Linked DNA regions of Homo sapiens: region 2 is linked to region 1. Evidence: fine-mapped expression QTL. A gene starts in region 1. The other region holds a variant in brackets. All regions are shown on one strand. Distances are between the middles of the regions.

Region 1 (2,860 bases):
GCACTTTTGAGCCTCATCTTCCTTACTCCCAGCCAGACATCCTACTTCCCAGCCTCACTGCACTTTCCATGTTTCCATAAACAGGCCTGGCCCTTTCACTCCTTGCTTTGCCCTTGTTTCCGTTCCCCAGAATGCCTTTCATCCTGTTCCCTCTTCTCTTTTTGGCAACTCCCACTTTGAGACACAGCATAAACATAATCTCTGTAGAACTCTTCCTATTCCAGATTTCTCCCAAATTTCTTGTTTTGCCTCTTCTGACAGCACTTTGTATATATGTCATATTATTGTTATGGAAATTAGTTTTGAAACTATCTTCCCCTACTGGCTTCTCAAGGGCAGAGACCTTGCATAGTCTTACCATACATGCTAACTGAATGCTTTTGCAGTTAGAATGATCAACAGGTTGGCAAATTTAGTTTTTGATATTGTGTTACCTCCCTCTGAGAATGCCCCAAGGTTAAGTAAAAACTCCCAACAGGGAATTTACAAGGTTTATTGTTGCTAATTTAACCAAACTTAAAGATTTTTTAAATCAATAATCAATTGTAAAGCATGGGGTCATGAAACACATTAGTAGAAAACACTGACTTTTGCCGATATGGTTCTAAAATGTCTCCTTTGGGACAGCGTGTAAACTGAGATTTGGCAAAAGAAGGAAGTGGGTCTTAGCTTTGTTGGGTCTATAAATTACTGAGTTAAGGACTGATAGAGTGGGGGTTAGGACGATCCTGGGCATAGTGCTGGGTGGGTGAGGGGTTAGTTACCTTTCCATTTCTTCGCCTTAGAATACACACTTAATTTGGCCAGCCAGCTTAGAAAATGCTCCTGGTAGTAAGATAAAAGGATTTACAGCTACATGAAAGAGAAAGGCATCAAAATTCAGGCCTTATTCAGCCTTGGGTCTGTGGTGCCTTGAGATAAAAGAGAAACAATTTATACCGGCACCGAATTAAAAAGTCCTTTTCTTCCTATCTTAGCTCGTTTTCTTCTCCTTTCCTATCTTAACATAGGGACATTCCTCTCCAGCAGCGGGCATAATGGCATGATTATGTTTTCCTCTATTTAGGGTTACTCCCCTAGCCTTGCAACCACTCCTTATTCTTTCATCTCTTTCAAAGTTTCTATTCTCCCGGACCCTTACGTTTTATTCCGTCCCTCCCTCTCTCCTCCTCTTCCTCCTCCTCCGTTTTCCCAGCTAGCTCACTCCGCCCCTCGCCGTCACTACCTTCCCTCCCCCGAGGCTCCTTCCCGCTCCTCCCGCCACCCCCCCCACCCCCTCGCCTTCAGAAAGCTCCAATCAGGAGCTCCGAAGGTGTCTCGAAGGCCCGCCCCCTCCTCCTATCCACTTTTCTTCCCCCCAATTTCTCCCTCCCCCCTTCCCCCCCCCACTCAAGTCCTGCGGACCTGGGGGCTTCGGGATCTGGGCGCTATGAAAAGTGTCTGCCCAGTCACTTCCGGTAAGGGCGCTGCGGCGCGAAGCTTCCCGCGGGACCGTTAAGGAGGGAGTGGGAGTTCCCGGTGGGCCAGGGAAGGAAGGCGCTGCCAGGAAAGGGGATCGCGAAGGGGAGCGGGAGCAGGAGCGAACTAGCGCGAGCGTCTGGGGCACTTTAGCCGCCCCTTTCCAGCCGCCCCCTCACGCGCGAGCTCCCCCGCCCCCCGGGCGGCTGCAGCGCTTCCCTCACCCCCACTCCCTGAGGTTGACACCGCCCCTCCCTCGGCGCCGCGTGACCGGAAATGGCGCCATCTTTAGCCTCTTGTGCTATTGACAATAACAAGCCCTGGTTCTTTCCCCCTCCCCCTTTCCCCCAACCACAGCCTCTCCCCTCCCAGGGAGAGGGAGAAAAGGAGGAGGAGCTGCAGCCTCACAGACTCGCTGAGTCGCTCCTGCAGAAAGGGGGGGAGAGAGATCGAAAAGCAGGGGAGGGGGACGGCACGGCCGTTTACCTGTCTGCCTCCTCATTCGCTCTCCCCCCTCGTTCTGCTCACTCCTGGTGTCAGCCTATCCGCCTTCCCAAACCCTCCCATTCCCCCGGTGTAGCCCCCCCCTTCACTTTCCTTCTCGTCCTCTGTGTTTCTCCTCTCTTCTTTCTTCCCTTCCCCCTCTAGCATTGCTACCTTCTCTCCTACACGCACGCAGGCATATAAACGTAGGTTTTTGATGCTCCTCTGCCTGTTGACCCCGCTATTTTCATGTTTCCAACAGGTTTTTCTTCCCCCAGTCCCTCAGCTGCTGCTGCTGCTCAGGAGGTCAGATCTGCCACTGATGGTAATACCAGCACCACTCCGCCCACCTCTGCCAAGAAGAGAAAGTTAAACAGCAGCAGCAGTAGCAGCAGTAACAGTAGTAACGAGAGAGAAGACTTTGATTCCACCTCTTCCTCCTCTTCCACTCCTCCTTTACAACCCAGGGATTCGGCATCCCCTTCAACCTCGTCCTTCTGCCTGGGGGTTTCAGTGGCTGCTTCCAGCCACGTACCGATACAGAAGAAGCTGCGTTTTGAAGACACCCTGGAGTTTGTAGGGTTTGATGCGAAGATGGCTGAGGAATCCTCCTCCTCCTCCTCCTCATCTTCACCAACTGCTGCAACATCTCAGCAGCAGCAACTTAAAAATAAGAGTATATTAATCTCTTCTGTGGCTTCGGTGCATCATGCAAACGGCCTAGCCAAATCTTCTACCACCGTCTCTAGCTTTGCTAACAGCAAACCTGGCTCTGCTAAGAAGTTAGTGATCAAGAACTTTAAAGGTAACCAAGGCCAAAATCCATAATCACCTAATAAGGATTTGACACTCGAGGGGTCACGTGCTCTATTTATGTTAATATATTAAACAGTTTGGAGGTGGCCTAATGTTTTATGCA
Region 2 (2,911 bases), 100 kb before region 1:
AATATTTCAGTAACCATGCTGTTGGTACGTTGAGCAAAAGAAAAAGAAACCTTCCCAATTTCACCATCATCACCTTAGTTTCTTACCATGTGATGCTTTTCTAATTTCAACACTAAAAAAATACAGTGAAAATGACAACACCAAAGATGAATAACCACAAGATGGCAGAGTTTACCATTTCATTTTTTTTCTTGTTTATATCATTTATTCATTCATTCATTCAAGAATTATTCCCTGAGTGTCTACTATGTGTCTAGTGCTTTTCTAGGAGTCTAGAGGATTACAAAAGAGGTTTACATGTGATATAGATCCTGCTCTTGATGAGCTTGTGGTGGGGGGAGCCTGTGGGAAAGACATACCTGAGAACATTTAAATGAAAATACATGGTAATGTGTGATTAAAGACCAAATGCAGAGTGCTGTATGAGTTTGCAATGAGCCAGAGAAGTCTGTATGGAGGAGGGGAGAACAGAGCTAGGGCTTGAAGGATGAATAAAATAGATCGATGTAGGAAAAAAGAATAAATCCCCAGCAAAGGAACCAGTGTGGTCTATGCCACTTAGGTAGAAATGAGCAAGACACAGTCCCAGGTTAGTGGCATGACTAATCTAGTTATAATAAACAGATATTGGGTAAACAAGAATGAAATAAATTAGATCTCCATTGATTTTGTTAGAATGATGCCCACCACGAAAGCTAAACTTATCTATTAAGTCTGCCACTAACTTATTGCCTTTAGGCAAGCCGCGTGACTGATTCAACTCTAGGGTTCTCCTTTGTAAAATGTGCAGGTTGAACAAGATGACCTCAAATAGCCCTTCCAGATCTTAGAAGAAAAGGAGGGAGGGAGGGAGGGAAGGAAGGAAGGAAGGGAGGGAGGGAGGGAGGGAAAGAAAGGGGAAAAGAGAGGAGAGGGAAAAGCTGATTCTAAGTTCCCTAGCAATTACTCTATGGCCTTTGACATGGTTCAGTTGCAAAAAAGAACAGTGATAGTCTGGTATGGTGGTTACAACTTGGGGTCTACTATTAGCTAGCCTAGTTCAAGTCTTGGATCAGTCACTTAATAGCTATTTAACAATAGGCAAGTTAGCTTAGCCTTTATAAGTTTCACTCATTCATTCAACAAATATGTATGTAACACCTTACTGTGTTAGTCAGGGTACTCCAGAGAAACAGAAACAATAAAATATATTTATATCTATGTATGTATTAATAGGAAGAGAGACTCAGTTGTAGGAATTGGCTCACACAATTATGGAGGTCAAAGAGTCCCATGGTTAGCTTTCTGCAAGCTGGAGAACCAGAAAAGCCAGTGGGATAATTCAGTCTGCATCTGAAGGCCTGAGAACCAAGGAGCTCTGATGTGTGAGAGAAGACGGATGTCCCAGCTCAAGAGAGTGAATTGACTCTTCCTCCAAATTCAGGTCTTCAATAAATTGTATGATGGCCACCCACATTAATGAGGATAACCTTCTTTTTACACTCTACCAATTCAAATGCTAATCTCTTCTGGAAACGCCCTCACAGGCACACCCAAAAATAATGTTTTACCTGCTCTCTGGGCATCCCTTAAGCTAATCAAATTGACACATAAAATTACCATCACACTTACAATATGCTAAGCCCTATGTTAGTCATTGGGAATAGAGAGATAA[ACAAG/G]ACAAACAAGATCCCTTCCCCGGAACTTATAGTTTTGTAGAGGAGATAGCCCAAACCCAGAAAATCAAACAGCCTGTTACAGCATGCTGAGAAGAAATAAAACTCCATCATGATACGTGATTGCGATTGAGTCTTCGTGTAATCTTGAAAAACAAAGGGAACTTTCAGGGAGGTAAGAAAGGCTACAGAAGAAGGTTGCAGTCAACCTTCTGAGAATTACAATGTATTGTTTACTAAACGTGCTGGCAACGTCATCTGGCATGCAAAAACAATGGACAAGGCCCCAAATGATTGGCTTTCTAAACGGTAGTAAACCTCAAGGGTACCAATATAAAATTTATTCTTTGCTAGCGGGGAAAAATATTTTAAAAAGTTAATCTATCCTTTTTGGACTTTTGTGTCCTGATTCTCCAAAACTGATCACTTTGAGGAAACTGAATTAATTACGCATGTCCTTTGTTTGAAGGATTTTTTTTATTTTTTATTTATTTATTTATTTTTATTTTATTTTATTTTTTTTGAGACGGAATCTCCAGTGCCAGGCTGGAGTGCAGTGGCGCGATCTCGGCTCACTGCAACCTCTGCCTCCCAGGTTCAAGTGATTCTCCTGCCCCAGCTTCCCGAGTAGTTGGGACTACAGACGTGCGCCACCACACCCAGCTAATTTTTTGTATTTTTAGTAGAGATGGGGTTTCACCATGTTGGCCAAGATGGTCTCGATCTCTTGACCTCGTGATCCACCTGCCTCGGCCTCCCAAAGTACTGGGATGACAGGTCTAAGCCACTGCGCCTGGCCTTTTTTTTTTTTTTTTTTTTTTTTTTTTGAGATGGAGTCTCGCTCTATCACCCAGGCTGGAGTTCAGTGGTGGGATCTCGGCTCACTGCAACCTCCACCTCCCGGGTTCAAGTGATTCTCCCTGCCTCAGCCTCCCCAGTAGCTGGGATTCCAGGTGCCTGCCACCACGCCCTGCTAATTTTTGTATTTTTTAGTAGAGATGGGGTTTCCCCATGGTGGCCAGGCTGGTCTTGAACTCATGACCTCAGGTGATCCGCCCGCCTTGGCCTCCCAAAGTGCTGGGATTACAGGTGTGAGCCATTGCACCTAGCCTGTTTGAAGGATTTAGATAACAGCCCATTTTTCTCCACTCAAATGTTATCTGATGTGCTAGCTGATGATAAATCATTGCTGCTCGTTTAGATAGATTCAGTTTTTAATTTTTTTTTTATTTTAGAGACAGGGTCTTGATCTGTCA

Which allele goes with the higher level. Alleles are on the strand shown, and positions count from the first base shown. SD is a standard deviation of normalised expression in the study named.
In carriers of allele ACAAG in region 2, the expression in esophagus mucosa of the gene that starts at base 1,867 in region 1 tends to be higher than with G alone (small effect, 0.13 SD a copy in GTEx).

What was found. PIP is the estimated chance that this variant, and not a neighbour inherited with it, causes the effect.
Region 2: its variant is fine-mapped to the expression of CUL4B in esophagus mucosa (GTEx, PIP 0.96).

What each region holds. Positions count from the first base shown.
Region 1 is chrX:120,559,969-120,562,828 of GRCh38, reverse strand. It overlaps CUL4B (cullin 4B), which reads left to right and starts at 1,867. Exons shown (of 20, transcript NM_001079872.2): 1 at 1,867-2,746. The coding sequence starts at 2,191. RefSeq lists silencers at 1,218-1,267, 1,568-1,647 and enhancers at 1,028-1,912, 1,621-1,915, 1,913-2,798.
Region 2 is chrX:120,661,556-120,664,466 of GRCh38, reverse strand. No RefSeq gene overlaps it. Among named protein-coding and RNA genes, the nearest start is that of C1GALT1C1, 33 kb to the right of the region's middle. The variant ACAAG/G (reference allele first, on the strand shown) is at 1,655.